3 separate regions of the Homo sapiens genome follow, and regions 2 and 3 are each linked to region 1. Evidence: fine-mapped expression QTL. A gene starts in region 1. Each other region holds a variant in brackets. All regions are shown on one strand. Distances are between the middles of the regions. Region 1 holds the start of MTHFD1L (methylenetetrahydrofolate dehydrogenase (NADP+ dependent) 1 like). Region 2 overlaps MTHFD1L (methylenetetrahydrofolate dehydrogenase (NADP+ dependent) 1 like). Region 3 overlaps MTHFD1L (methylenetetrahydrofolate dehydrogenase (NADP+ dependent) 1 like).

Region 1 (10,779 bases):
TGCACATGTGAGTCCAACTGTGGACAGTGACTTAACAGAAGGTTTAGATAAAAATAAGTATAAAAGGTTAGAGTCTCTATACCCTTGGGAATGGGGTGAAAAGGGAATCTCATCACCTCGACCAAAGTTAGTTAGTCCTGTTACTGGTCCTAAGCGTCCGGAACTTTGGAAGCTTACTGTGGCCTCGCACCACATTAGAATTTGGTCTGGAAATTAAGCTATAAAAACAAGAGATGGTAAGCCATCTTATACTATCGACCTAAATTCCAGTCTGACAATTCCTTTGCAAATTTGTGTAAAGCCCCCTTATATGCTAGTTGTAGGAAAAATAGTTATTAACCCAGATTCCCAAACTATAACCTGTGAAAATTGTAGATTGTTTACTTGCATTGATTCAACTTTTAATTGGCAGCACTGTATTCTACCAGTGAGAGCAAGAGAGGCCATGTGGATCCCTGTGTCCATGGACCAACTGTAGGAGGCTTCGCCATCCATCCATATTTTAACTGAAGTATTAAAAGGAGTTCTAAATAGATCCAAAAGATTCATTTTTACTTTGATTGCGGTGACTACGGGATTAAGTGCAGTCACAGTTATGGCCGCTGTGGCAGGAGTTGCATTGCACTCTTCTGTTCAGACGGTACACTTTGTTAACAATTGGCAAAAAAAATTCTACAAGATTGTGGAATTCACAATCTGGTATTGATCAAAAATTGGCAAATTAGATTAATGATCTTAGACAAAATGTCATTTGGATGGGAGATAAGCTCGTGAGCTTGGAACATCATTTTCAGTTACAGTGTGACTGGAATACGTCAGATTTTTGTATTACACCCCAAGCCTGTAATGAGTCTGAGCCTCACTGGGACATGGTTAGATGCCATCTACAAGGAAGAGAAGATAATCTTACTTCAGACATTTCAAAATTAAAAGAACAAATTTTTGAGGCATCAAAAGCCCATTTAAATTTGGTGCCAGGAACTGAAGCAATTACGGAAGCTACTGATGGCCTCGCAAATCTTAACCCAGTCACTTGGGTTAAAACCATCAGAAGTTCCATTATTATAAATTTCATATTAATCCTTGTGTGCCTGTTCTGTCTGTTGTTAGTCTGCAGGTGTACCCAGCAGCTCCGAAGAGACAGCGACCATCAAGAACGGGCCATGATGACGATGGCAGTTTTGTCAAAAACAAAAGGGAGAATGTGGGGAAAAGAAAGAGAGATCAGATTGTTACTGTGTCTATGCAGAAAAGGAAGACATAAGAAATTCCATTTTGATCTGTACTAAGAAATATTGTTCTGCTTTGAGATGCTGTTAATCTGTAACTTTAGCCCCAACCATGTGCTCGCAGAAACGTGCTGTATCAAATCAAGGTTTAATGGATTTAGGGCTGTGCAGGCTGTGCCTTGTTAACAATGTGTTTGCAGGCAGTATGCCTGGTAAAAGTCATCGCCATTCTCCATTCTCTATTAACCAGGGACACAATGCACTGCGGAAAGGCGCAGGGACCTCTGCCCAAGAAAGCTTGGGTATTGTCCAAGGTTTCCCCCACTGAGACAGCCTGAGATATGGCCTCATGGGAAAGGAAAGACCTTACATCCCCCAGCCCGACACCCATGAAGGGTCTGTGCTGAGGAGTAGTGAAAGAGGGAGGCCTCTTTGCGGTTGAGATAAGGGGAAGTTTTCTGTCTCCTGCACGTCCCTGGGAATGAAATGTCTCAGGGTAAAGCTGATCATGAGATAGGAGAAAACCACCCTGTGGCTGGAGGCAAGATATGCTGGCAGCAATACTGCTCTGTTACTCTTTGCTACACTGAGATGTTTGTGTAAAGGGAAACATACATCTAGCCTACATGCACATCCAGGCACAGTACTTTTCCTTGGACTTATTCATGATACAGATTCCTTTGCTCACATGTTTCCCCTCTGACCTTCTCCACATCACCCTGTTGCCCTGCCACACTCCCCTCACCAAGATAGTAAAAATAGTGATCAATAAATACTGAGGGAACTCAGAGACTAGCACCGGTGCAGGTCCTCACATGTTGAGCACCGGTCTCCTGGGCCCACTGTCCTTTCTCTGTACTTTGTCTCTGTGTCTTATTTCTTTTCTCAGTCTCTCGTCTCCACCTGACGAGAAATACCCACAGGTGTGGAGGGGCAGGCCCCCTTCACATGTTGGTCAGGCTGGTCTCGAACTCCCGACCTCAGGTGATCTCCCCACCTTGGCCTCCCAAAGTGTTGGGATTACAGGTGTGAGCCATCGCACCCGGCCCACTTTCTAATTTTTTCTCCTACTGTTTTTCCCTCCGTAGTCTCTTTTGTGGCATTGTCTTCCTCTGCTTCTTTCTTGTTTGTGTTTTTTGGTGCTATTGTAGGTCCTCCTGTCTTCTATACACTCTCTCGGTGATCTTACCCATAACCATGGTTATCAAATCTGTATCTCCATTTTTGAACTTTCTCCTGAGCTATACATCCATGGATCCAACATCCTACTCCACATCTCCACTCTGATATCCCATAGGCATGCCAATCTTGATAGGGCTAAGCCTGTTGCTTCTCTCCTCTGGTCTTCCTCTAGGAATAGCACCACCTATACTTCAAGCCAGAAAGTGGGGCTTCATCCTTGACAACTTCCTTCCATATACCCTCTAAATCAATCAAATCCTAAAGGCTACCAATGGTTCCTCTTACTTATCTCATGAATCCATCCACTTTTCACCAATCCATTGGTCAAGGATATACTCAGGAACTTCTCGTTTCTTCTCCTGTTACTGAAACAGTCTTCGGATTTGTCTGCTGCCTTCACTTTCTATTGTCTACGCTGTCGCTGCTGTGATCCTTCTACAACACACATCTGAGATTGCCACTCTCCTAATTCTAAATCCTTCAGTTGTTTTCCACTGCTTTCAAAATGCAATGCAATGGGCTGGGCGCAGAGGCTCACTCCTGTAATCCCAACACTTTGGGAGGAGGCCGAGGAGGGCAAATCACCTGAGGTCAGGAATTTGAGAGCAGCTTGGCCAAGATGGCGAAACCCTGTCTCTGCCAAAAACACAAAATTAGCCAGGCATGGTGGTTGGCTGTAATCCCTGCTACTTGGGAGGCTGAGGCAGGAGAATTGCTTGAACCTGGGAGTGGAGGCTGCAGTGAGACAAGATTGCGCCACTGCACTCCAGCCTGGGCAATAAAGCTAGATTCCATCTCAAAAAAAAAAAAAAAATGCAATGCAATGGTTTCGTGACCTGCCACAACGTGGCCCTGCCCAGCTCTTCTTACTTGCCATTGCTACTCATTTTCCCCTGCCCTCCCCACTCGACTGAACAGCTCTCAGTATCTCAAATTCATCATGCTCTCTTCTACTCCAGACTTTTGCTCATGTTGTTCCTTCATTTCCAACATTCCCACTTTTCCAACACTGACCTTCCCTTAGCTCATTTCCTTCCCTTAGCTGACCTTCCCTTAGCTCAACTGCTAAGGTCTTGCCTCCAGCTGCCACCTCTTTCACTTTCTTCAGGAAGCCTTTTTTTTTTTTTTTTTTTTTTTTTGAGACAGGGTCTCACTCTGTTGCCCAGGTTGGAGTGCAGTGACACGCTCACAGCTCATTGCAGCCTCAATCTCCCAGCTCTGCCAGTAAACAGATGGGCCTCTCTGGACCCCAGTTTCCAAAGGTTGAAGGTCAAGACAATAGCTCTCAATTCCCTACTTTTGTTAGGATTGTATGAAGGGTCCTTCCAGCACTGTCCCAGTATGGTGCTCGGCTAATGGAAAACCAATCTCTGTAACTTGGACTAGTTTTATTCCCACCTTATCTGGGAATTATAAGGGTATAAGGTTGTAAAAATATAAAGTTAACAATCTGACCCTCACTTGGGAATCATAAAATTACAATCTGATATCCACTTTACTTGGAACTTATGGTCAGCCCTCTGTATCCTCAATCAACCTGGGACTGAAAGTATTTGAAAAAATTACAATAACAAAAAATAATAAAAAATCATAGAAATAAAAAAGTACAGTGTAATATCTATTTACATAGCATTTACATTGTATTAGGTATTATAAGTACAGCAGGTCCTGGAATAACATCATTTCATCATTTTGCTCAGTGGTTTTCTTATAATGATGAGAAAAAAATAGATTTCTGGCTGGGTCCACTGTCACGTTTTATCCATGTCTGTGTGGATTTTCTCTGTCTTCTGGTGTCCTGTCACATCCCAAAGCCGTGCAGTGCACTTTAGGTAAATTGGTGCATCTACACGATCCGAGTGTGAGTGTGGGTGTGTGTGAGCACACCCTGTGAGGTGCCCTGAGTTGGAATAAGCCGGTAAAAATGATCTCACTTTTATTAATCTTTATTTTTCTCTAAGCGAGAGGGATAGGGGGTGTTTAAAAAAAACTTTTTCTTTGAGACAGAGCTGTGCTCTGTCGCCCAGGCTAGAGTACAGTGACATGATCTCGGCTCACTGCAACCTCTGGCTCCTGGGTTCAAGCGATTCTCCTGCCTCAGCCTCCCGAGTAGCTGAGAATACAGGCACGCGCCACCACACCCAGCCAATTTTCTGTATTTTTAGTAGAGATGGGGTTTCGCCATGTTGGCCAAGCTGGTCTTGAACTTCTGGCCTCACGTGATCTGCCCACCTCAGCCTCCCAAAGTGTTGGGATTATAGGCGTGAGCTAAAAATCTTCCTTAAATATATGCATGGCTCACACTTATTTCAATGTTTAATATTAGAAGTGTTTTGGTCTTTATTTCGAAGTTTAGGGGCGATTTTGTGACCACAGATATGTTGTAGGAACTTCACTCATATCAATTAGCCTGTGGTCAAACTGTTTTCCTTACAGTCATTTGGCTTAAAGTTTCAGTTTCCAAGAACCCCTCCACGATGTTAGGTGAGGACTTAGGGAATGTGGAGATGACCTAAAGTTTATGATGGGAAGATGTGTGTAGGTGATATGCAAACACTTTTTTTTTTTTTTTTTTTTACCAAGGACTTGAGCATTTGTGGACGTGGGTCCCCTGGAGGGGCCCTGGAACCAATCAGGACTATAAAATCCTTTTAAGGTTTTAAGAAGAGCATTGTTATCTCTGTGGTACTGACGAAGACCCCGCAAGCTCACCGAGATTAAGTGCCCCTGCCTAAGGTTACAAAGCCTCTTATCCTCAGGCCACCTCCAGTACAGCAAATCCAAGCCCTCCCGTCTAAACTTGGCGCCCTGAGTACCAAGGGTCACCTCGGCCTTTCAGGCTGAAGGGAGGGAGGCTGAGTCTCAGGGCAGAGTCTGAGTCCCACTCCGCACCCCACCCTCTGTCTGGTACAGCTTACCAAACCAAAGTGCCCAAAGCCGTGACATCCCGGCCGGCGGCTCGCAGGCCCCCGCCCTCCGCACGTCACGGCCGCCGGGTGCAGTGCCCCCTAGGGGCCCCTGGGACGAGGAGGAAGCGCCAGGTCCTTCCCGCCGCCGCCGCCGCCGCCGCCGCCTGCTCCCCTGGCACGCGCCCCGCCGCCCTCGGCAGCCGCAGCTCCGTGTCCCCTGAGAACCAGCCGTCCCGCGCCATGGGCACGCGTCTGCCGCTCGTCCTGCGCCAGCTCCGCCGCCCGCCCCAGCCCCCGGGCCCTCCGCGCCGCCTCCGTGTGCCCTGTCGCGCTAGCAGCGGCGGCGGCGGAGGCGGCGGCGGTGGCCGGGAGGGCCTGCTTGGACAGCGGCGGCCGCAGGATGGCCAGGCCCGGAGCAGCTGCAGCCCCGGCGGCCGAACGCCCGCGGCGCGGGACTCCATCGTCAGGTGAGTGTCGGGTCTGGCCCTGGCCCAGGTCTCCAGCGGCTGTGGCCCCGACCCAGGGGCGGAGCGCCCGGGACCGCCGTGGGGAGCGGGGCGCGGGGCTGCGAGTGTTTGGTGCCAACTCATTAGGGGGGCCGGGCGGTGTGTCGGGAAACGCGGGCTTGGGCACTGCGGCCGGGAGCGCTGGCGGAGAACGGGGGATCCAGTACCCGACCGGGCCCGCAGCGCAGGTGGGCGTGGGCATCTCCAATGGGCGCCTAGCGGCATGGACCGCACGCCCGGCTCCACGTGCGCAGCCGGCCGCCGGCTCTGATGCAATCGCGCCGGGCGCGACCCAGACGGTAAAGGGGCGGTGCGGCTGGGGCGGAAACCAGGGGAGGGGGCGAGGAGCAGGAGGAGGGCGGGGCTGCGGCTCGGCGCGCCGGCTGGCCCGGGGTTCGGGAAGGGCAAGCGGAGCTCGGGAGAGGCGGGCTCGGGCCCAGCGCCGCCCGCGCGAAGCTCCCTGGTGTTGTGCGCCCTTCCCCGCGCGCGGCCCCTCCTGCTGGGCTGGGGTCTGTGGCTGACGTCCGCTTTTCCCGGAACGGCAAAGGTGGAGCCGGGCCCCCGGGACAGCCGCCGGGGGGAATCCGAGAGGTCTCAGCGCTGGTTTCCAGCTTCGCCGCGCAGCGCCCACGGAGTCCCCGCGCAGCTGGGTTTGCAGGGTTTTCTGCGGGCCCAGAGCGAACTGGGAGCCCCGGGCCCGGCCTTTCCCGTCCCGGTCCCCGCCCCTGGGCTCCAGCCTTCCCCGCCCTCGCCCAGAGGGGCGCACGGGTCTCGGGCCTTGCAGGGCGAGCCCTTCGGGACAACTTGGGGGTGGCAAGAAAGCCCCTTCCGCCTCCCTCGGAACTGGGATTAGGAACGAGTTCCAGGATGCGGTTTCCCCGGCCAGCGGACCACCTCCTCCATTCACATCCTCTTCCCTTTCCTTCTAGCCTTCTTTCTTAGTCATTGCCTGCTTGCCTTTCTCTCTGCCTTTCCTTCCTCCCTCTGCTCTCCCATTTTCCTCCCCACTCCCCTTCTCCCATCTCAGTAAAATACGTTTCCTAGGCTCTTTATTATGTGGCGGATGATTTTAAGGGGCCATTTATTTAGTTTTTCTTGTTCTCTGTCTTCTTTTTCTTTTAGAAATGGAGTCTCGCTTTGTTGCTCAGGCTGGAGTTCAGTGGTGCCATCTCGGCTCAATGCAGCCTCCGCCTCCTGGGCTCAAGCGATTCTCCCGCCTTAGCCTCCAGTGTAACTGGGACCACAGGTGTGCGCTACCATGCCCGGATTATTTTATTTTATTTTCATAGAGACAGAGCACCACTCTGTTACCAGGCTGGTCTGGAACTCCTGGGCGCAAGCCATCATCCCTGCCCCCAAAAGCGCTGGGATTAATTACACGTCAGGTCATTAGGTTTTAACCTGCACGTTGCTGAGACTCATCTTACCGGTTAGAGTCTGAAGCCAGGATAGGCGGCAAAAAAACTTCTCCCGTCATGCTGTTTTATTTTCTAGGTAAACTGATTATTACCTGAAACTTCCTTCTTTGCTCATTTCTTGTCTGTCTCACCCACCTGGAATATGAGCTTCATGAGACAGCCGTCTCTTCGGTGCTATATCCTAGGTCCTGGAGAGAGTGCCCAGCATGTAATAAGCACTTGTGAAATGGTTACAGAAGGAATGCTTCAAGATTTGGGGTCATCTGTGGGTTTTATTCATACATATTCTTTTTTTTTTTTTTTTTTTTTGAGACGGAGTCTTGCTCTGTCACTCAGGCTGGAGTGCAATGGCACGATCTTGGCTCCCTGCAACCTCTGCCTCCCAGGTTCAGGCGATTCCCCTGCCTCAGCCTCCCGAGTAGCTGGGATTACAGGAGCACGCCACCACGCCCGGCTAATTTTTGTATTTTGAGTAAAGACAGGATGTCTCACCATGTTGGCCAGGCTGGTCTTGAACTCCTGACCTCAGGTGATCCGACTGCCTTGGCCTCCCAAAGTGTTGGGATTACAGGCGTGACCCACCGCGCCTGGGCTATTCATGCATACTTTTAGGTTTAAAGCCATGACTGCCTTAGAGATGAGTAAAGAGGTTAGTAGGGGGCTTTAGGGCCTGCACTGGGTTCTCCAAACTCAATTCCTTCAGGAAAATGGGAGGAGTAACAGTACTTACCTCAAGGGGTTATGGAAACAATTATGTGAGAGGACACATGCAAAATACATAGCCCAGGACTGTCACATACAAGACAAGTCCCTCAACAAATGGTGGCTATTAATTTTTTTTTTTTTTTTTTGAGACGGAATCTCACTCTGTCGCACAGGTTGGAGTGCAGTGGCGGGATCTCGGCTCACTGCAACCTCCGCCTCCCGGGTTCAAGCGATTCCCCTGCCTCAGCCTCCTGAGTAGCTGGGATTACAGGCTCGCACTACCACGCCTGGCTTATTTTGTGTTTTTAGTAGAGACGGGGTTTCACCATGTTGGCCAGGCTGGTCTCAAACTCCTGACCTCGTGATCTGCCTGCCTCAGCCTCCCAAAGTGCTGGGATTACAGGTGTGAGCTACCATGCCCAGCAATATTTTTACAATTCACTAAGCCAGGGGTCCACAGACGTTTTATATATAATGGGCCAGATAGTAAATATTTTAGGTTTAGTGATCCTAGAGGCAAATCAAAATTATTAGTAGGTACATTTATAACAAGAGAAAAGACAAATTTAGGCCAGGCACCATGGTTCATGCCTGTAATCCCAGCACTTTGAGAGGCCAAAGTGGGATGATCACATTCCCAGGAGTTCAAGACCAGCCTGGGCAACATAGTGAGACACCCATCTCTGTAAAAAATTTTAAAAAATTAACTGGGCGTGGCGCGTGCCTGTAGTTCCAGCTACTCAGAAGGCTGAGGCAGGAGGATCACTTGAGCCCAGGAGGTCAAGGCTACAGTGAGCGGAGATTGCGCTACTGCACTGCAGCCTGGGCAATGGAGTGAGACCTTATTTTTTATTTTTGCAATTAAGTATTTTTAATTAAGGTATGTACATTTTTTAGACAATGCTTTTGCACACTTAATAGATGGCAGTATAGGGTAACCATAACTTTTATTTTTATTTTCTATTTTACTTTAAGTTCTGGGAAACGTGCCGAACGTGCAGGTTTGTTACATAGGTATACATGCGCCATGGTGGTTTGCTGCACCCATCAACCCGTCATCTAGGTTTTAAGCCCCACATGCATTAGGTATTTGTCCTAATGCTCTCCCTCCTCTTGCCCTCCCACCCCCTGACAGACCCTGGTGTGTGATGTTCCCCTCCCTGGGTCCACGTGTTCTTATTGTTCAACTCCCACTTATGAGTGAGAACATGGGGTGTTTGGTTTCTGTTCCTGTGTTGGTTTGCTGAGGATGATGGTTTCCAGCTTCTTCCATGTCCCTGCAGAGGACATGAACTCATGCTTTCTTATGGCTGCAATTTTATTTTTGTAGAGATGAAGTCTCACTATGTTGGCCAGGCTGGTCTCAAACTCCTGGGTTCAAGTGATCCTGCTGCCTCAGCCTCCCAAAGTGCTGAGATTGCAGGCATGAGCCACCACGCCTGGCTATATTGTACCTTTCAATTGAGTTATGTGCATGGTTTACTGAAACTCTAGCCCTGAATTGATTCTCCGAGGATTGGAGCAAAGTGGGTGGGGGTGTGTGTCAGCTAGAAGTCACCTGGAATAGACATCCAGGAGCGGAAGTGTATTAGTCAGAAAAATTAAAGAATGAGCTCCCTCAAAAGCATAGTGACCTGTTGTTCCTGGTGATGGGACTAGATGACCATAATCCCTCAGCCTCCCAAGTAGCTGGGATTACAGGCAGGCACCACCACACCCAGCTAATTTTTGTATTTTTAGTAGAGACGGGGTTTCACCATGTTGGCCAGGCTAGTCTTGAACTCCTGACCTCAAATGATCCACCCGCCTTGGCCTCCCAAAGTGTTGGGATTACAGGCATGAGCCACTGCCCCTGGCCAGTAATAATACATTCTGTATAATAGTCACAGTAATGGTGAAAATAACAAAGCTGCTGCTGATGGCTTAGTTCTGAGTTTTAGCTACACATGGCAACCTAGCTAGAGAGCTCACATTCCTTCCCACTGTCCTCAACCAAAGTGGAAGCTCACAAGGCCATTTTTCTGCCCCAAGGACATGAAAATCTCTGATTAGAAACATTTATGCTACTTTTTGGATTTATTGAGCCTAATGACTCCTTTTTCTTTCTTGCTTTGTCACTGTAGGAATGAGTAACCCCAAAAAATGAAACATTACACATATAACAAGTTGTAGGGAGCATGAACCTATTTTGTTTTATTAGCTTGGGTGGTAGTAGCGTTGAACTCCTTTACATACCTGTACAGGCACCCCTAAGATATTGTGGGTTCAGTTGCAGACCACTGCAATAAGGGGAATATCGCAGTAAAACGAGTCACACAAATTTTGTAGTTTCCCAGTGCATATAAAAGTTATGTTTAGACAATACTGTAGCCTATTAAGTATGCACTAGCGTTTTGTCTAAAAAAAAACCCATATATAAGGCCGGGCGTGGTAGCTCATGACTGTAATCCCAGCACTTTGGGAGGCTGAAGTGGGTGGATCACGAGGTCAGGAGTTCGAGACCAGCCTGGCCAACATAGTAAAACCCTGTCTCTACTAAAAATACAAAAATTAGCCAGGCATGGTGGTGTGCGCCTGTAGTCCTGGCCACTTGGGAGGCTGAGGCAGGAGAATCGCTTTAACCCGGGAGGTGGAGGTTGTGGGGAGGCGGAGGTTGTGGTAAGCCACTACACTCCAGCCTGGGAAACAGAGCGAGACTCCGTCTCAAAACAAAACAAAACAAAAAAACCCAAAAAACATATATATATATATTATATATATAAAATATATATAATATAATATACCTTAATTATAATATAATATAATTATATATACCTTAATTTATATATAT
Region 2 (10,779 bases), 140 kb after region 1:
GCGCTCATATTTCTTAACCTATTTTGAGCTGAGCTAGTTGCAAGGACTAGTTCTTCTGTGAAACCTCTGGCAGTCCATAAATTCAAGTTCGTGTCCAGACGTAATGGTGAACTCAATATGTTGTATATTTGATATATGTTTGTTGCACACATGGAGAGAAAAGTTGCTACCATTGTGAAGTAGCCATGAAATCCGACAGTTCTAATTTCTTTATCTTCTGAGTACCCATGGAATAAAGGACCTCTTAGTGCCATAGCAAGGCAGAAGTTTAATTTGCAATTCTGGTGGCAACATCCAGGTATTTCAAGTAGAAATTAAGAAAACTTTACGGAAAAACTATCTCAGCACTTCAGTTTAACTATTTTTCAAAGTCCAAGGAGGGTTTTCCCCAGTGTAAAAGCAGAAATGAGAATTTCAGATCTAAAGCGGTTCTTGCCTTTTCTTTTCCCTCCATGCACATGTGCTGACAACAGAAAGTAAAATTTGAAAAGAAAACCCAGGCTAGAGCATTGGGGTCACTCATTTCCCATCCAGCGAAGGGAGAGCTGGTGCCTGGCTGGGGGAGGTTAGGAAGGCAAGTCTTGGGATCTGATCACTCGGCTGGGAGTGGGTAAAATACCTGGACCTCAGGAGGCCGGATTGCAGCGCCAGTGTTCTCTACCTGTGTGGCCTGTTCCTGCCTGGGGTTGGGTACCAAGTCCAGGTGGAAGTGGTCCCTGGAGCATCCTCTCTCTGAAGTGTTTCTTTGTCAAACAGAATACTCCCTGCTGCTGCCCCAGAACTCATCACTGTTGACACATGGACCAAGAACTAGCAGAGGAGGTGATTTATAATCTCTAAATGAATTGCTCTAAAAGAGACAACAAGCACTCTGACTTAAGTAAAGGAAGGGAGGGTGGGTGGAAAGGAAGGAGGATCATAAAGAACATTCTAGATTGCATACTTTGGTAATCACAGCAGGGCCTTATTGCAGTTAGAACAAAAGCCTGGACACACTTACCTCTCAGTTCAGGAAAATAATTTAGAGCTACTTGTTAAATGCTGGAGTATTATTGAAGTACCAAGTGTTAAGATTTTCACTGAAAGCAAAACTGACCAAGCAGCTCAGCTAGGGAAATGCTATGTGATCAGTTGATTGTTTGATGAGGAGTATGGAGCAGGGACTTTGGCAGAGGTTGCTAGCAGACAGGCCTTGGTTTTAGTCCAAGCTCTATCGCTTAATAGCTGTGTGACCTTGGGGAAAATTATAAAATTTTCCAGTCCTTAGTATCATAAACTGTAAATGGAGGAGAAAGATGCCTCACAGATGTTGAAGGTGAAGTGAGACAGGACACCTAGTACATTGCCTGGCTACATAGAAAATGTTTCACAAATGTTAACTTGAGGCCCTCTCCCCATGCCTCGGTCTCTTAGAATGGTTTTTCCCCATCGTGTGCACATTGAGCGGTAAGGCGGACAGCTGCCGCCGCCCATGCTGCCCCATGTTGAGAGCATTTCTGTTGACCTTCCCTTCTTCCCTGTGAAGCTGGTTCAGCAGTCACCTCATCACTGTTTTTCTTCTCCAGAGAGTGCTGGGTTGTAGCGACCATACTGTTGACGCAACACATCCCAACCACGCTGGACGGAATTTTTACTGCGATAATTCATATTCCAGGATCTTACAGTGCACAGGGTTACAACGATTAGCATAATGATCTTGCACAATCTTTCTGCCTAGCATGTAGTGCATTCGTAATATTCTCAGAGGAGGCGTCTAGAAAGCGCCAGGCTCCTTCCTCCTGCGTGAGCCACTGCAAGCTGTCGGCGCCTCAGTGCTATGGAGACCTTGGGTGGATTATTCCTTGTTGGCGGGGGGAGGGTCCCAGCTGTCCTGTGCATTATAGGATATTTAGCAGCATCCTTGCTAGATGCCATTTACAACAATCAAAAATGTCTCCAGGCATTGCTAAGTGTCCAGGTGGGGAGCGGAATAGGCAGAACCGCCTCCAGTCGAGAAGGGCTGAACTGTACTTAGGATTTGTGATTCTGCAGAAATGGGTTCTGTGAATGCACTAAAGCATGAGAACATCCAAAAATCAGTGTGGCACAGAACTGAATTCAAATTTACCTGGATCCAGGTAAATAAGCACAATTTTGAAAGTACCAAACAGAATTCAAGAAAAACAACAACAACAACAAAAAACACATTAAAAACAGAAAAGTTGGCCGGGCGCCGTGGCTCACGCCTGTAATCCCAACACTTTGGGAGGCCGAGGTGGGCGGATCACCTGAGGTCAGAAGTTCGAGACCAGCCCGACCAACATGGTGAAACCCTGACTCTACAAAAAATACAAAAATTAGCCGAGCGTGGTGGTGGGTGCCTGTAGTCCCACCTACTCGGGAGGCTGAGGCAGGAGAATCGCTCGAACCTGGAGGGCGGAGGTTGCAGTAAGCCGAGATCGCACCATTGCATTCCAGCCTGGGCAAAAAGAGTGAAACTCCATATCCAAAAAAAAAGGGGGGAAAGGTCAGAAAGACGTTCTTTTTCACTAGGTGATGAATTAATCTTTCCCATCTTTGTCATGTTAAAAATGTGCCTGTGGCTGTTTCTCCACTAAATGAAGACACTGGCACACAGATGATTGTGTGTAAACACTAGGCAAGACACTAGGCACAATCGTAGGGGTTCAGTAATTATTGAATGAGAAGAAAGAAAGGTTGTTCTTGAATTCTGTGATGTGAGTGTTTAATGATGTTTTTGAGGAGAATGCCATATGTAGCAGACAGAACCCTGGGCTGGGCATCAGAGGGACCGGGGGCACCACACTGGGCTTTGTGTCATTATCTCCAGAAAGTAACTGGCCTGGTGCACAGGAGAAAGTTAGAGTACATTGTCCATACAGTTCCCACATAGCTGTAGGGTTTTATGAACCCATATTTTAAAGGGCCTTCTAATGAAGTGAGGATGTTAATGCTTTTTTTTAAAAAAAAAAAAAAAAAAAGAGAGAGAGAGATTGGTGATTACTTTAAAATCTGAGTCCTGGCCAGGACTCACGCCTGTAATCCCAGCACTTTGGGAGGCTGAGACGGGCAGATCATTTGAGGTCAGGAGTTCGAGACCAGCCTGGCCAACATGGTGAAATCCTGTCTCTACTAAATACAAAAATCACGCTCCTGTAATCCCAGTTACTTGGGAGGCTGAGGCAGAAGAATCACTTGAACGTGGGAGGCGGAGGTTGCAGTGAGCCAAGATCACACCACTGCACTCCAGCCTGGGCAACAGAATGAGACTCCATCTCAAAACAAACAAAAAAATCCAAGTCCTAATTATCGCTGCAGCTTTCTTTAATGTGTGCAGTAAGGTGGGGACATACAGAATAACTTAAGATGTAGAAATCGTCTCTCCCTCCCTGAAGAATATCATGGATACTACATTTGCCTGCCAGGAATGTTGTGTTGTTCTGGTGTTCTCGTTTCTGCCGTTATCATTGTTTCTGCTTAATTTTTACAACACAACTCTGGCCGCACCCGTGGATGATCATGGAAAGGCAGCTGCCTGGCTTTCCAGAATTGTTTTGACTCTCCATCTGAACCCAGAGCTCTGTTTCCTGTACAGGTTGCTAGCAGTATTTACCCAAATTGTCCCTTCCCAACTCAGACCCACTGACCCTTCCTTTCTCAGCTGATTACGGGTTTAAGTTTGAATCAAACCATGCTATAGAATCACTATCTAGCAGCTTCTGTGCTTGCACAATAAGAGTATTAGTCAGCGTTTCCTGTTTTCATTCATATTGTAAGTTGAATAGCTGTAACAAAAGGGAAAGAGATTGCCAAGACAAATAATTCTTATGGCTTGTGCAAACAATTTATTACAAGCCTTATTAAATATGCAGCTTTCAGAAGTCTACGTGATATGCCTTTCAGCAAAGCTAAATCCTACTATGTGGACTTGCTTCATGACTTAAGAACAAGTCTATATTGAATTTAACATTAAATAATTATTTGGCCTGTATCTCTTTTAAGCTTTGTTAAGAACTGCAAATATGATAAGGGAATAAATTGCTCATTTCAAGTCACTAAGAAAACCTAACCTATAGGTTATATATGTTGGCAGTTCCCAAGAAGTACCTAGGAAATGGAACCTTCCTATAAGAGTGGTTTGTCCCCTTCTCACGAGATGGGTCTTCATATCAAGGCCCCCTAAGGCACAGATACACAGCACTCCACAGTGTCCAAGTTCGTAGTAATTGGTGGCACCTTATTAAAGTAGTTTTTACTTTCATAATTACTGATTACACATCAGCATACCTTTTCCATGTTCTGTTTCCTTGGCAGCCTGATATTTGAATACAAACGACATAAAAGTGATTACATGCAGCATTTCAGGACAGTTTTCAAACTGAGAGAATTTGGCACTTTCTTTTATTTTCTTCCCATTCTTCGTCTATTTCCTTTGCATTTGGAAGCCAAACTCCTCGAACCTTTACTTCTGCATGTTGTTTTCGTCCCCTAGCTAGAGTTCTCTTTATTACTACTTTTTTGTTTCCAATTGGTCTCTTTTTAAAAATAAAACATGGTGAAACCCCATCAATACAAAAATTAGCCGGGCATGATGGCGGGTGCCTGTGATCCCAGCTACTCGGGAGACTGAGGTGGGAGAATCAATTGAACCCAGGAGACGGAGGTTGCAGTGAGCTGTGATCGTGCCATTGCACTCCAGCCTGGGCGACAAGAGTGAAACTCCGTTTCAAAAATAAATGAATAAGTAAATTAAAATATGAAATTAAGCTTAGCTAGCCTGTGTAGATGTTTTAGATGGTCATATCTTTATCGGATATGACATTTATGCCTTTCAGTAAAACCATTGTAGTATTGTAAGAAAAAAAGGGAAGTATGATAGGGAGGACTAAGAACATATTTGTACTTCTATGTAATGCTATTTTATGTGTCTATTTCCATTGAAGTGTGGCCTTGACATCACTGGCTCCCAAGTCCCATCCTGTTTTTTCATTGACCTGCTTGTGCCAGGTACTGCGTTAGGAAGTGGAGCTACCAGATGAATAAGGCGTGGTCCCGCCCTCCATGTGGGAGACGGCACGTCAGTGTACTTAGGATGCTGCATGTGGTGACAGATGAGGGCCCTGCAAGGGAGCACACCACAGGGCCGGGAGGGTGGGATGGGCGGGAGGAGTAGCCAACTTTGCCCGAAAGCATCAGGACAAGCTTCCAGGAAATGGCACATCCAAGCTGAGTCTTGGACAGCGGGTTAAAGAGGCAGAGAGGGGAGAGAGGAATGTTCCACATGGGAAAAGAGGTCTGGAGGTGACAACAAGTAACATAGAGTATGTGGGCTGTGCCGGAAGCTTGATATTACAGAGGCACGAAGTCTGAGGCAGG[G/A]AGTGTGAAGGAAGATGAAGGTAGGGGAAGGAAGTTTACACAAGGGTGGCCTTGACTTTTATATTAAGGCACTTTAGGGAAGCAGGAACCACTGAAGACAGGAGAACATGGTGACTACACGGGCGCATTGAAGGGGGGAGGAGCTAGGTTTTTGAAGGGAATTTGAGCTTGCAATTTTTCAAGGGCATTCAATGGTTATAAATGAAACTTTTCATTAATATATTTGTGTCCAAGTGTTTTTAGATGTGCTTTTCTGCTACTCTCTTTTTATTTGGTTTGGAGATAGATGGTGACTTTCCTTCAGTGCCTTCTATGTGTCTTGACATGTTAATGTCTCAAACACATGGTCCGTATCATCATGGAGCTTGCAATCTAACAGGGTAGTTTAACACATAAATATGCATCCAGTTGGAAAGAACTTAGAGATCACTTGATCAGCCCCCGTTATGTAAAATGTATGCAACAATCTACCTCCAACTATAGGGCGACATTAAACAGTTTTTCAAAATACCATGGCATTGAAAAAAATGCGTAACATTTGGGTTACTTCAGTCCCACTCCCCGGTACTAATCAGGCCAGTGAACCAGTCTTGCTGGTGAAATAATGACTTCTCCAGTCATGATGGATGATTTCCCTTCATCATGACCATTTCTTCCCTGGCTCTGCCTTTACCTATGAATCTCTTCTTTCCTCCCTCTCCTTCCTCCTCTTGGTCTCTGCCTGCCATACCCAACTCCACATTTCTCTGCTTGGAAAAATCCTACTTGATTCTCAGAGCCTGACTCCATCACCCCCTCTCTCCAACCCTCCCAGGCAAACTCCGTCCCTCCCAGTGTGCCGCCCTCCAGCTCTCTCTAGTTGAATAGCAGATGTTCTCTCTCCCACTTCCCTGCAGGGCTTCAGGGTAGTGACCCTAAGAGTGAGCTTCTACCAGTGAGAAAAACGCCTGGATGGAGCAGGAATTCCCACAAATGCTTAGGAATTCAATATGATTTTTAGCAAGTGGGAGAATTATCCTTTTGGTTACAAAGATGTGAACTATTTTTGTGAGTTCTCAGTATGCACCAAGAAAAACCCCAGTGACTCAGTAATGTACCTGTGCCGTCTCACTTAACCCTTCCAACAAGGAACTTGCCAAGGTGCACAGCTGGGAGGGATCCGGGGTCCCGTCCGTGTGCTAACCTGCAGGACAGCGCCGCATAATCCAGTACTGGGGCCTTATTGTCCAGCCTTCCACCTCCAGGAGCCCACTCAGTGATGACTTTTGACAAAAGTCACCCGGATTATCCCTCTTTTGGGGTCCATGATGCCACCAACGGCTAAAGTTAACAAATGCATTACCAGGAGGTACCACTGAGGTAAGGATTGTTACTGTAAGTGATTTTCTCTGATTTTGACCACTACAAGTAAAATCACAAGATTTGTCCCAAATACTATATAAAGAGGAATGTCTTTTATTTCTCGAAATTGTTCTGCCACTTTGTTTGTTCAAATAACACATAATAAAGGATAAATGGCTTGTAGCTATATTTATCCAAATTGAACATTTTTGATGTAATTTTTTTAATTTGTCAAAAGCATATCAATGGTCATAAAAATTTTTTATGTCCTCTGGCCCTATTACCTTACCCTTGGGAATTTATTCCAAGAACGTAATTTGAAAGAGATTAAAGCACATAGGCACAAATATTTTCAGTGCAGTATTGTTTATATTGGAAACAACCCAAATGTTCAGTAACAGGGGGAACAATTTTGTAAATCTTGCTACAGCAACTTAACAAAATTATAAGCTGCCACTTATAATTGTAAATTTTGAAAGTTTGTAGCACAGCAAGGAAACTGATCATGTTAAATGTTTCTGATATCTTAGTTAATTTTTCTCCCGCCAGTTCCGATCGGTGTCCTGGTCATACCGTCAGCATATAAGTATGTATTTCATAAACATTTACTTTGTATTAACTCAGTAGTATTCCCTTCCTAGAGTGGTTTGCTTCCCAGATTGTAATGGACAATCATCTCACCTGGGGATCTTGTAACAATGTGATTCTGATTCTGTAAACTTTGTGGGGAGCCCAAGATTCCACATGTCTTAGAGGCTCTCAGATACTGCTGATGCTGTTGATCACGAATCACGCATTGAGCAGCAAGGTCCTAGAGCTCTTTGTGTATGAAGAAGATACTACTGACCCAGTGCCTCGCTATCTTGAAAGGCAGCTGTGACCTTTCTAGCAACTGAGGGGGTGGGGACTAGAAACGAGTGTTTTCTGGTGTTTCTCTAATAAAGCTGCTGTCTTGTATCCAGATTGACCATCAGTATCCTTATGCCCTTCAACTAACTTGAAATTTGTCAGTTAACAGAAATTACTGGGTGGCACTAAAATAAATTATTCTTAATATAAAGGGTAAGAAAGGGTCGGGTGTGGTGGCTCATGCCTGTAATCCCAGCACTTTGGGAGGCCAAGGTGGGCAGATCACCTGAGATCAGGACTTTGAGACCAGCCTGGCCAACATGGCAAAAACCCGTCTCTACTAACAATAAAAAAAAAAAATTAGCCGGGTGTGGTGGTGGGTTCCTGTAATCCCAGCTACTTGGGAAGCTGAGGCAGGAGAATCGCTTGAACCCGGGAGGCGGAGGTTGCAGTGAGCTGAGATTGTGCCATTGCACTCCAGCCTGGGGGACAAGAGCGAAACTCCATCTCAAAAAAAAAAAAAAAAAAAAGAGTAAGAAAGGATCTTCCATTGTAATCATACTATCATTGCCTTTTGAAACAATTTGGAACCTGATTACAAAGTTGAAAATCCCCATCTGTATGAAGAAAAGCTTCACTGGCTGGTCACCTTGGCTCAACGCCTGTAATCCCAGCACTTTGTGAGGCTGAGGCGGGTGGATCACAAGGTCAGGAGTTTGAGACCAGTCTGGCCAACATGGTGAAACCCCATCTCTACTAAAAATACAAAAATAAAAAATTAGCCAGGTGTGGTGGCAAACACCTGTAGCTACTCAGGAGGCTGAGTCAGGAGAATCGCTTGTGCCCGGGAGGCAGAGGTTGCAGTGAGCCGAGATCATGCCGCTGTACTCCAGCCTGTGCGACAGGGCAAGACACCATCTCCAAAAAAAAAAGCTTCACTGTGAGTTATGATATGGGAAGAAAAGTCTTGGCCTGGCCACCACAAGGAATCCCTCAGGCCTGGCGGTGGGAAGCAGAGGAGGGCGCAGTCTCTTTAGGGCAGAAAGTGAAGAACATTTCTATGACAATGGGGAAATCAGTTCACCTTTGTGTTGGTAAACAAAAGGAATGTAAGCTGTCCTTTGAGCTCGAATCATAGTGGTGATTGCCAAAACCTACCTTTGTTTTTAGAAGATAATAGCACATATTCCACTTGCTTCCCCACAGTGACCGAAGCTGGCTTTGGTGCTGACATCGGAATGGAGAAATTCTTCAACATCAAGTGCCGAGCTTCCGGCTTGGTGCCCAACGTGGTTGTGTTAGTGGCAACGGTGCGAGCTCTGAAGATGCATGGAGGCGGGCCAAGTGTAAGTGCCCACACCGCCTTCCTAATACCAAAGAAATTTCATTATGTTAAAACAGAATTGAGCATTTGAAAAATTCCTGCCCATTTAATGACTATAGTTTTCTAGAGTATTTTTCTTAAAACTTTTTTTTTCCTGTAGACCTCCCTCGTGGACATCTAAAACGTTTTTTGTTTTGTGTTGTTTTTTGTTTTTTCCCAACACCACCATAGGGCACTTTGAGTTTAGTAAGTTCGAGTAAACAGTAACACCCACAGTTCTTTCTAAACAATATTTTGGAAAGGAGCATAATGCAACCACTTTTTAGTCTCAAGCTTCACATCTGATACTCAGGCCAAGATTGTATAACCATATGGTAATGGGAGGTTAGAGGCTCTTGTCCCTGAACGAAGAACAAGAGGATTAGAGTGAGTTCTTTGATGACAGAGATTTTTCATTGTTTGTACAGATAGTTTTTCGGTTCACTGATGCTGCAACTCATCAGATTTCATCTAAAACTATTTTCCTTCTCTTTCTGTTTATTATGATTTCTCCTCACAACTCTGTTATAATACTGGATTGTTTCTAAGAGCTTTGCTTGGAAAACACAAATTCGATTTTAACTTCTTTAAAGACTTTTTATATTTACCTATCCTAATATATATAGAAATTACAGACATTATAAAGGAAATATATTCCTTTCCACAGAAAACCTGTGCATAGATTTTTGGGGGTTTTTTTGTTGTTGTTTGCTTGTTTGTTGTTTTTTTGTTTCATTTTTAGGAATTTCCAAGTGGAGAATAAGACATTTTATACTGATTAATCATTTTGAAATAAAATAAAATTTCTCTATCATAATATTCACATATGAGACGAACTGCCAAATCTGATTTCTTAATTGGTATACTGTACTGTGTATGTGACAAAAGTCATATATTCAATGATTATTGCATAGTCAAAACAAGTAGCAGGTTTGCCATCATGAAACGCTGTAAAGCAATTCTTTCTCCTGGGAGAGGTGGACATGATTTTTATACCATTTTACAGATAAGGAAGCTGAGTTTTGATAGGCTTAGGGAATATGGACAATGTCAGCAGGCCAGCAGAGAGCCGAGAACTTCAGATCTAAATCTCCTACTATGTCCACCATGCAGAGCTGGATGTTAATGAAGGGCAGAAGTTTTCTAAATCCAAATCCACTCCTAATACCCGACACTTAAGCACTTCATTTTTGCCTAAAGCTTCATCATCATTTCAAATGCAAGAATGATATAATACAGATTAAAAGTAGTAAATCATAAAGAATTCTGACTTCACTCAAAACACCCCTTGTTGCTACAGTCCTTCCTGGATTTTAGACATTGAATCTGTATAACAACTTCTATTTTTAAAAACTACTTCCGCCCATGTAGGATGCATTTGGAATTCTCCCTCCCTGCCCTGCCACCCTGAAAATTATAGAAAGGGCTTAGAGATTGTCTGATCTCATTCAGTCTTTATAAAGAGAAAATCTCTGAGGCACAGGGAGACGCAGTGACTTGAGTGGTGTCACACATCTATTTCAGGGACTGATCAGATCTACAGTCCTGGTCTCTTGACATCAGTCCCATAGTTTTCCAGACTCTGGTCTCTGTCCTGTAAAAATTCTCTACATGGTTTACAATCCTATTTCATTCATCTTAACATATGTGCTCTGTTATTCAGTGGTTGCACTTTCGTGCCACATTAATCCTTTGTGTCTCTTCCACTGCTGCTTAATGTCATGGTTCTCAGCCAGTGATCATGGTAACATGGAACAGGGTTAGTAGGCACAGATATGGGTGGAGGATAAGAAAAGGTGGGGACCAGCCAGGCGTGGTGGCTCATGCCTGTAATCCCAGCACTTTGGAGG
Region 3 (10,779 bases), 22 kb after region 1:
TTGAACACATTGTGTTTGAAACGCACAGGCTTAGCTGGGCCAGATTGGAATGCTTCAGATTCATGCTTCCTGTCCTTCCTGAAAACTGGCAGTGTGTTTGGCTTAAAGTATGCTTGTTGACAGAGAAGTGTCCTTTGTCTATCTAAACCTTAATAGCTGTTGAGCTTTGGTTTTGTTCTGTTTTGTCTTTTTCTGGCACAGAGTAGAGCCATAGAAAGGCAGAGAAGTCACTAAAAAATTCAGCCAAGCCTTTTAATTTTTTTTTTGAGCCTTGTACACATGATGAAAAGAAAAAAATAGGCTTTTTATTATGCTTTACACCAAGTTTCCAACAAGGAGCAAAACAACAACAAACTATAACAGATGCATTTTCATGAATCCACTTTTTATATAAAGCTTCCTTTGTTGGGTCTCATTTTCACAAAACTAATTTTTATTTTGTTTTTTTGTTTTCTCTTTAGATTATAGATGAAATCTTAAAGATCAATGAAGATACCAGAGTACATGGCCTTGCCCTTCAGATCTCTGAGAACTTGTTTAGCAACAAAGTCCTCAATGCCTTGAAACCAGAAAAAGATGTGGATGGGTAAGAAAATAAAATCAAATAATCAACCTTTATGGCTAAATCACTTTTTCTATTGTGCCTGCTTTTATTTTTCTAAATTTCTTCTATTTATTTCAACTGTGTCAGTAATTGGATAAAAAAATCATTTTAAATATTTCAGGAGTCTATAGGATTTTTTTTTTTTTGAGATGGAGTCTCGCTCTGTTGCCCAGGCTAGAGTGCAGTGGCGTGATCTTGGCTCACCACAACCTCCATCTCCTGGGTTCAAGCGATTTTCCTGCCTCAGCCTCCTGAGTAGCTGGGATTACAGGCATGCGCTACCATGCCTGGCTAATTTTTGTATTTTTAGTAGAGACGGGGTTTTACCATGTTGGCCAGGATGGTGTCTATCTCCTGACCTTGTGATCCACTCACCTCAGCCTCCCAAAATGTTGGGATTACAGGCGTGAGCCACCGTGTCTGGCCATCTGTAGCCTTTTAAAATTCTGCATGCAAAAGTTACATATTTTGGAAAATACATTAGCCCTTTTATAGTGCTTCAATGCCATATGATCTTACACCATCAGATTCATTTAATAAATTCCGGTCTGACTTATACAATCTTTAGCCAGCTCTATTCTTCTAATAGTTTTTTCCTTGGTAATTCTACCAGACCAGAGAAGAAAACTTAGAAACCTGATTCCCCAGCAGTACCATATTCTGTCTTAGTCCCAGGCCAGTTGAGAAAAGCAAAATAAATACTTTTCTTAATGACACAAGGTTTTATTTGAAATTTGGAGGGGAACATCATAACTATTGGGTGCTGTAATGTTGGCCTGTGATTCATGTCATGGAGTGACATAAGCTTCATAGAACAAAGGATACCGGCCGTCTCCAGTGGGGGATAAGCATGCTTCCTGGGGATTAAAACCCCATTTTCCTCCATGGAAATATAGGAAGTGTTTTGTACTGTGGCCAAAAAGAACACAATGTGTTAATGGTTATAGGTTGTAAGCAGATTTATAAAGTTAGATTCCAGATCCGGTAGACCCTGCAGGGGCTGGATGGGGAGGCTACCACCTTCCTGAGACACCCAGCAATCTTCCATTCTAGCCTTTTATTGTGACTTGAGTAGACCCAAACACAGGCTGAAAAGGTGTCATGAACACCTCCAGTCCTGGCTGGGCACAGTGGCTCACACCTGTAATCCTAGCACTTTGGGAGGCCAAGGCAGGAGGATCTCTTGATCTCAGGAGGTCAAGACCAGCCTGGACAACATAGTGAGACCTCATCTCTATTTTTTTTTTTTTTTTTTGAGACAGAGTCTCACTCTGTTGCCCAGGCTGGAGTGCAGTGACACGATCTCGGCTCACTGCAAGCTCTGCCTCCTGGGTTCACACCATTCTCCTGCCTCAGCCTCCCGAGTAGCTGGGACTACAGGTGCCCACCACCACACCTGGCTAATTTTTGTACTTTTAGTAGAGACGAGGTTTCACCGTGTTAGCCAGGATGGTCTCGATCTCCTGACCTCGTGACCCGCCTGCCTCGGCCTCCCAAAGTGCTGGGATTACAGGAGTGAGCCACCGCGCCTGGCCCCTTGTCTCTATTTTTAAGTAAATAATTAAACATTTTTTTAAAAAACGACAATCTCCAGTCCTGTCGTAGACTAACTGTAAAAGGAGAAGAAGCACTAATCCATGAGAAAACTTTCAGAACTTGAAGGTCCTAGGGCATAGTTTCAAGTCTTTCATAAAAGGAGGGGAATTCATGCTGAGGCCCAGCCAGGAAAAACCAACCAAACAAAAACAACAGAGAGTAAAAGGAGAAATTACGAAAATGGTTCTAAATGTCTCCATTCTGTTACTGAGATTGACGTGCTCAGTTTAGGCTAGATAGCTGTGGAATGTTTTGTCCTAGATTTGAACAGGGAAAGGCACAGAACCCTTCAGAAGTGTGTGGTCACTCATTTTTTCCACTGCCCCCCACCCCGACTTCTCAAGGAGATAAATATCGAGGTCAAGTTGAAATCAGACCTGTGACCTGTGCCTCAATCCCAGGTCTTACTGGGTCACTCCAGATTTATAGGATTGGTTCTGGGTTTTGAGTGGACTGCAGGACCATGCTTCTGTGTAACTCTAGGGATGCTAGTCCATTGGGGTCCATTGAAAGGAGCTCCCTGGAGTTGCGAAGTGAAGCCCTGTATGGCTTTAGGCTGTGTCCTGGTATATTGGCAGAACCGGAACACCCAATGTCAGGGCCAGGGTGAAGTTTCCTAAGGTACTGCCTTAGAATTTTCTAAGACCTTTATTGAATGGCCTTTATTGCCTGCTTTCTCTTTAATTCATTTTTTATGGGTTTTTTTTTTTTTTTGAGATGGAGTCTCGCTCTGTTGCCCAGGCTGGAGTGCAGTGGCATGATCTCAACTCACTGCAACCTCTGCCTCCCAGGTTCAAGCGATCCTCCTGCCTCAGCCCCCTAGTAGCTGGGATTACAGGCACGTGCCATCACGCCCAGCTACCTTTTGTATTTTTAGTGGAGTTGAGGTTTCGCCATGTTGGCCAGGCTAGTCTCGAGCTCCTGACCTCATGTGATCCACCCGCCTCAGCCTCCCAAAATGCTGGGATTACAGGCGTGAGCCACCATGCCTGGTCCTCTTTAATTCATTTTTATGTATTCTGTCTATCAAACATTGACTTGGATGTTATTTGGGGTTAATATATGTACATTACACGTGAGTGATTTTTTTGGCTGGGCTTTGACTTAACCTACTTCTTTATTTTCTGATTCAGAGTAACAGACATAAACCTGGGGAAGCTGGTGCGAGGGGATGCCCATGAATGTTTTGTTTCACCTGTTGCCAAAGCTGTAATTGAACTTCTTGAAAAATCAGGTAGGATGCTCCTTGAGAAATGCCGCTGATTTCTATTTATTGGTATTTACATTATTTTTAATAAGGATTTGTTTGGGGAAGAATTAAAAATTTTTTTAAATTATTATTCTGATATCCTTTTAGGATGTTTCTAGAAGATTCTAATTGAACATAGAAGTGATATTTCACGTTGACTTTTTTTATTTTTCTCATCTTTTGGGAGATACAGATGAATACCTAGAAACTTTTTCTAGTAAGACCATCTTATAAATTAAAAGAGAAATTAGTAGAGATAAACGATTAGCCCTGTTTTAAACATGCTCAATTTCTCTCATGAAACAGTCAAAATAACCACAGTAAAATATGCTTCCAGTTTCAGCTTACTAAATCTATCAATATGTAGCCTTAGATAAGACTTACGTTGAAGACTTAAATGAGGCCAGGCACAGCGGCTCATGCCTATAATCTCAGTGCTAGGCGAGGCCAAGGCCAGAGGATCACTTCAGGCCAGGAGTTCGAGACCAGCCTGGGCAAACATACTGAGACCTTGTCTCTACAAAAAAAATTTAAAAATTAGCTGGGTATGGTGGTGTGCACGTGTAGTCCCAGCTATGCTGGAGGCTCAGGCGGGAAGATCGCTTGAGCCCAGGAGTTTGAGGTTACAGTGAGCTGTGATTGCACCACTGCACTCTAGCCTGGGCAATATAGCAAGACCCTGCCTCAAAAAAAAAAAAAAAAAAAAAAAGAGAAGAAGAAGAAGCCGGTAGATGTAGTTTAGGGCACAGGAGCCTAGGTTGGGATTTATTGGTGAGCAGCTTGCTTTTCAGTAGTCAGGACTTAATTTCCATTGTTGTCCCCTTGACTTGGCGTTTTTATGTCAGTGAAATAGAAATGAATATTTTCTCTTTCTTCATTATTAAGTTTAATGAGTAAATTACTACCAAGTATTTATATATTTAAGGGCTTTCTGAGAACATAAAGATTCAACTAATTGGGCCGGCACAGTAGCTCACACCTGTAATCCCAGCACTTTGTGGAGCCAAGATGGGAGGATTGCTTGAGCCCAGGAGTTTGAGACCAGCTTGGGGAACATAGGGAGACTCCATCTCTACCAAAAAAAATTTTTTTTTTAATTAGCCAGGTGTGGTGACTTGTGCC[T/C]GTAGTCCCGGCTACTTGGGAGGCTGAGGTAGGAGAATGGCTGGAGCCTGGGAGGTCAAGGCTTCAGTGAGCTGTGATCACACCGCAGCATTCCATCCTGGGCAACAAGCAAGATCCTATCTGAAAAAAAAAAAAAAAGAAAAGAAAAAATTCAACGAACTAAATCTTTTTCTCTACTCCAGTTTGAATAGAAATGAAGCAAATGCCCCTCCCTACCCCTGAACATCCAACAATCAAAGAAAAATTTCAAAAATATATGGCAAAGTTTTATTAAAAGGTTAACATTCAGGATATATATGCTTTTTGGACAGTAATATTAAGCTCAAATCTATGAAATAATCCATATATACAGTGCTTTTTCATTACGTGGATTATCAAGATGAAGATTCTGAGCCACTTCATTAGAAAGTACTCAAAGAAAAGAGTAAATTAGGCTGGTGAGTTATAGTTACATATTGTGGAAAGAAATTCAGCAACAGGAATTGGAACCAAAAGGGTTTGAATAGAGAATTTTTGTTGATTACAACACCCCACTCCTAGTTCCTAGTCATTGTAGGTTGGTGCTGAGAAAGTTCAAGTTTTAAAAGGGTTTTTTGTTGTTGTTGAGACATTCTTGCTCTGTTGCCCAGGCTGGAGTGCAGTGGCGTGATCTTGGCTCACTGCAACCTCTGCCTCCCAGGTTCAAGTGATTTTCCTGCCTCAGCCTTCTAAGTAGCTGGGATTATAGGCATGTGCCATGACGCCTGGCTAATTTTCTATATTTTTAGTGGAGGCGGGGTTTTACCATGTTGGCCAGGCTGATCTTGAACTCGTGACCTGAAGTGATCCGCCTGCCTCAGCCTCCCAAAGTGCTGGAATTATAGGCATGAGCCACCACACCCAGCCTAAAAGGGTCTTTTTTTCTTAAGATAAAGTTCTTAAAGGAAGGATCTGAAGTTTTGAGTATAATATTGAATTTTCATTTGGTTAGTAGGTGTCAACCTAGATGGAAAGAAGATTTTGGTAGTGGGGGCCCATGGGTCTTTGGAAGCTGCTCTACAATGCCTGTTCCAGAGAAAAGGGTCCATGACAATGAGCATCCAGTGGAAAACACGCCAGCTTCAAAGCAAGGTAAATTTCATGTTAGAAACATACATCTTGAAGGCTTCTGTTAGAACAGAAGAAAGTCTAGAAATGTATAAGCTAAGTGCTTAATTCAAGAAATTAGAGGAAGAAAATTGAATAGACCCATATCCATTAAAGACATTGAATGAGTCTACTCACCAGACAAACAAACAAGAAAAGGCAACAGGTGGTTTTACAAATGAGCTCTATCAAACAAAGAACAGATCATTCTAATACAATCCTTTTCTCCAGCAAATGGAAAAAGAAGGAACGTGGCCTAACAGACTTTATGAGTGCCAAAACCAAAGAAGGGTAACATGCTAAAGGAAAATTAACAGGCCAGTTTCAGCTATGAATATAAATGAAATAATCGTGAGCGAAATCTGAGAACACCAAATACAGCAGGAAGTAGGGTTTATTTTAGGATTTCCAGGTGATTGAACATGAGAAAGTCTGTCACTGTAATTCACCACATTGTGATTAAAAACTAAATTCTCACCATAGTAAGTACAGAACAGTCATTTGGTAAATCTAATATGCATTATGACCTTTTGAAAGTAATTATAATTTTGATGAAAATTATTAAGAAGACCCATATAAAAGCAGAGGTATCATCTTCATGGAGAAGATGCAATATCTTAAAGATACTAATTGTCTGCAAATTTTGTAGAATTTGACAGTCTGATTCTGAAATCCAAATGGAAGCATAAAGGACAAAGAGAGTCAAGACAATTTTGTGGAAAAACTAGGTGGGAGACATTCCCAGCCACACAGTGTGAATTATTATGCACTTACAGTAATTAGGATAATATGGTAGACAAACAGACGATCGGAACAGAAGAAAGTGGAAATTTATGCATATATGGAAGCTTGAGAGCAGGTACCACAGATCAGTGGGGAAAAGATTAACTATTAAAGGCCGGGCGTGGTGGCTCATGCCTGTAATCCCAGCACTCTGGGAGGCTGAGGCGGGCAAATCACTTGAGCTCAGGAGTTTCAGACCAGCCTGGCCAATATGGTGAAACACCGTCTCTACTAAAAATACAAAAAAATTAGCCGGGCGTGTCGGCGCAAGCCTGTAATCCCAGCTACTCGGGAAGCTGAGGCAGGAGAATCGCTTGAACCCGGGAGGCAGGGGTTGCAGTGAGCCGCGATCGTGCCACTGCACTCCAGCCTGCGCGACAGAGTGAGACTCCGTCTCAAAAAAAAAAGCTAAAACATTAACTATTAAAAATGGTGCTGACTTAACTAGTTATGTATATGAGTCTAGCATAGGATTACTAACCTGCCACTACATATAAAAATCACTTCTATATTAAAATACCTAAATGTGGAAAGCAAAACTGTAAAACTTATAGAAAAAAATATAGGCGTATGCATTTAAGAGGTTGGCGTTGGAAGGATAGCTTAAGAGACCCCAAAAGCACAGATTGCTAAAGAAAAGGTATATAAATCTGACTGCATCCAAATTTTTAAAAACCCCAAAGTTTTTCTTTCTGAAAAGAAGTTCTTAAAAAAGTGAAAAGACAGCTATAGTGTAGAAGATATTTACAACAAACATTTAGCCAATAATTAGTGTCTTATAAAAGATTCCTACAAATCAGTGAGACAAAGACAATCTGTTAGAAAAATGGACACATGACAGACCACTAACAGGTGAGGAACCCGAGGTTTAAAAGACACGTGAAAAGCTGTCTGGTTTCCTGCTGTTTTTGCTCACCAGTCATATTGGCAGTAGGTAAAAAGTGCCAGTTAGCCATATTGACAAATGTCTGGAGCTATGGGAATTCATATATTGCTGGCGGGAGTTTAAATTTGAAATAGGCATTTCGGAAAGCAGTTTAATGGAGTTTGAGCTACTCTTTGACCCAGGAATTTCACTCTAAATATATATGATATGGCCAGGCATGATAGCTCACCCCTGTAATTCCAGCACTTTGGGAGGCTGAGGCAGGCAGACCACCTGAGGTTGGGGTTTCAAGACCAGCCCGACCAACATGGAGAAACCCCATCTCTACTAAAAATATAAAATTAGCTGGATGTGGTGGCACATGCCTGTAATCCCAGCTATTCAGGAGGCTGAGGCAGGAGAATTGCTTGAACCCGGGAGGCAGAGGTTGCGGTGAGCCGAGATCACACCATTGTACTCCAGCCTGGGCAACAAGAACGAAACTCCGTCTCAAAAAAATAATAATAAAAAGTGTATATATATGTGTGTGTGTATATATATATATAATAGACAAAACTTGCCCATATATATACAAAGGTGTGTTTACAAATGGTCAGAGCAGCATGTTTATAGTGCAAAAAGTTTTGTTTGTTTGTTTAAGACAGAGGGGCAGTGGTGGTTCTGTGGGTCTTGGCCCCTTTCTGCTGTCAGGGCTGAGTTGGCTCCATGAGTTGGTGAAAGCGGTATCTAGCCAGGTTCAAGGGAGACAGGGGCAGGATTTCGCCTTCACTGATGGGCAGGCCAGCGGTCCCCTGTGGAACGGTGACTATTGAATATTGAGAGGACAGTATCCCTCCCTGAGCATCTTCTGGAGCTTGATGACCACTAGGGAATGTATCTGAGTCACGCGCACCAAATATGTTACCGGTGGCAGCTATTCGAGTTATCCCGAGTTCGTGCTGGTGTATCCGTACAGTTCTGCAGCAACTTCAGCTCTTGCCTCCTCGGAAGAAAGAATTGGACTGAGGGCCATAAGGCAGAAGGAGAGACTGAGGCAAGTTTCAGAGCAGGACGGAAAGTCTAGCAAAAAGCTCTAGAACAGTAAGGAAAGGAAAGAAGGAAAGTATAACTTGGAAGAGAGCCAAGCAGGCGACTTGAAAAACCAAGTGCACTGCAACAAGTATTTAAACAGTGATCTAAATGCCCATCAGGGTGAAAGGATAAATCAGTATAGTTGCATGTAGAGTATGCATAGTCATAGTTCATAAAACAATGATATACAAGCAGTGAAAATTAATAAACTAGAGCTGTAGATAGCAACATGTTTTCTTGTTTTGTTTTTTGTTTGTTTGTTTTTTTGAGACGAAGTCTCCCTCTATCCCCCAGGCTGCAGTGCAGTGGCGCGAACTCGGCTCACTGCAACCTCTGTCTCCTGGGTTCAAGTGATTCTTCTGCCTCAGCCTCCTGAGTAGCTGGGACTACAGGTGTGCGCCACCATGCCCAGCTAATTTTTGTATTTTTAGTAGAGACAGGGTTTCACCATGTTGGCCAGGCTGGTCTGGAACTCCTGACCTCAGGTGATCCGCCCACCTCGACCTCCCAAAATGCTGAGATTACAGGCATGAGCTACCGCGCCCGGGCTGGAAGAATTTTTTAAAACACTGTTCAGTGAACAAAAACCCAAGTTGCAGAAGGATGTATTTCATACAACACCATTTATATGTGTCTGAAAGCAACACAACATATATATATATATGTAATCTAATACATACATACATATAATATGTATTACATATAATCCTTATATATATATAGAATCTTAATATATATATTTAGGTCAGGACATTTAGATCACTGTTTAATATATATATTAGGATTATATATAATATATATTATATTATTATGTATTAATTATATAATCCTTATATATATATTAGGATTCCATGCAAATGAAGTAAAAATATAAAGAAATAATGCAAACTACGAACCAAATCCGAAAAGCATTTATTGAGGCAAGGATGTGGATATAGATGGAAAGGAAACCTAGACACCTTCATGCCTTTTTTCTTAAACTGGGCAATAGGTGTTGTCTAGGTATGTTAGGTTATTGTTTTCCATTTCTATGTCTGAAATGATTGTTTTTCATTTTAAAAAATGATGGTACAGCTCACAGATCTAAAGCAAAGTGAAGTTTTAAATGAATGCATTAAGTACAATCAGTAACTACAGAATGTGATCTAAAAATACATGTTCCTCATGTTGCAGGGTGAGAATGGAAATGAGGAGTAAATTGTAATCGTGCCAGGGAAGCCAGGTGTCTCAGCAGATTTGGAATCTTTGCATGGCAGGTGGATCCAATTTATGTAATGCTTGGGTTAAGACAGCTCAGGAAGGCAGCCTTGCAATGAAACGTGAACCTGTGTGCGTTTTTAGCAGTCACCACATGGTGGCAGCCTATCCAAGAAAATTCAAGGGCAATAGTTTGCACTTGAGAGCCCAGAAATTTTGATTTGGAAGCTCAGTGGAAGAGGAAAATAAACCGTGCCCTGCACTGAACAGCTGTGGTGAAGAGAGAAAATACCTTCCTTGGCAATTGAATGTTTTCGCAGCTGTCACAGATACTTTTGCTAGTTGTATCTATATTTTTGAAAAACAAAGACATTTTTCAAAGTACTTTTTTATTACGGGAATAAATCACCTTGTCTCTGTACTTTGGGATGAATCTCATCTGAACTTTGAGAACGATTAAGTGGCTTCACTTTCTGGAGAATCTGGTCATTGGGTAACATTCTTGTTTTCATATGGACCAGAAGGTTCTCTTTCATAGTTGATGTTGCACACACGTTTTTTTCCCTAAGTCCTTGGTATTTATAGTGGCACCATTGCGAATGTTAGAGGCTATCAACTTTCATTCTTATTATTGCTTCATCTTTGTAGCCAAAAATATGGGAAGAAATGTTCATAGCCCCGCCCCATACTTGTCCCCCTCTACCTGGCCTACCTACCTACGTCAGGCTCCTGTCCCACCACAAATGACAGCCTGTGTCTTTCATGTTAGCAGCTAGTCTTTCACTAGCCACATACTTCCCCGTAACCCATATGCCTCCCTGTGTCTGCCTGACGTTTGAATTGTCACTATTCTGTTGTTGTATTTTTACAAGAAGAATGTATGGGGCAGAAAACCCTTGCCATTCATTTCCTGAGTAGGAATTCTAGCCTTCCTTGGAGTCGTGGTAATATGGAGACATGGTAATATGTGGATTGTACCACTCAATGGCTGTCTGGAGGCCACAGTGGTGCAAAAAGCCACCTAGGCATGGGTTAGTGTCCTGGGGCACCCAATCAGGACAGGACACCTGGCACACCCTTGGAAAAGCTTCACTGTGAAAAACACTGGAAGTAAAAATTTTAACAACAGATAGGGATTTTTTTCCC

The links.
Region 2: its variant is fine-mapped to the expression of MTHFD1L in whole blood (TOPMed, PIP above 0.99).
Region 3: its variant is fine-mapped to the expression of MTHFD1L in nucleus accumbens (GTEx, PIP above 0.99). The same link has a PIP of 0.9 or more in thyroid and tibial artery.

What each region holds. Positions count from the first base shown.
Region 1 is chr6:150,860,263-150,871,041 of GRCh38, forward strand. It overlaps MTHFD1L (methylenetetrahydrofolate dehydrogenase (NADP+ dependent) 1 like), which reads left to right and starts at 5,440. Exons shown (of 28, transcript NM_015440.5): 1 at 5,440-5,787. The coding sequence starts at 5,561. RefSeq lists silencers at 5,282-5,511, 5,572-5,981, 6,142-6,341, 6,462-6,611.
Region 2 is chr6:151,001,047-151,011,825 of GRCh38, forward strand. MTHFD1L (methylenetetrahydrofolate dehydrogenase (NADP+ dependent) 1 like) reads left to right here. Exons shown (of 28, transcript NM_015440.5): 21 at 8,773-8,912. Among named protein-coding and RNA genes, the nearest start is that of MIR12131, 96 kb to the right of the region's middle. RefSeq lists enhancers at 7,910-8,648, 8,649-9,385. The variant G/A (reference allele first, on the strand shown) is at 5,377.
Region 3 is chr6:150,882,301-150,893,079 of GRCh38, forward strand. MTHFD1L (methylenetetrahydrofolate dehydrogenase (NADP+ dependent) 1 like) reads left to right here. Exons shown (of 28, transcript NM_015440.5): 5 at 462-586; 6 at 3,334-3,434; 7 at 5,545-5,681. Among named protein-coding and RNA genes, the nearest start is that of MTHFD1L, 22 kb to the left of the region's middle. The variant T/C (reference allele first, on the strand shown) is at 4,572.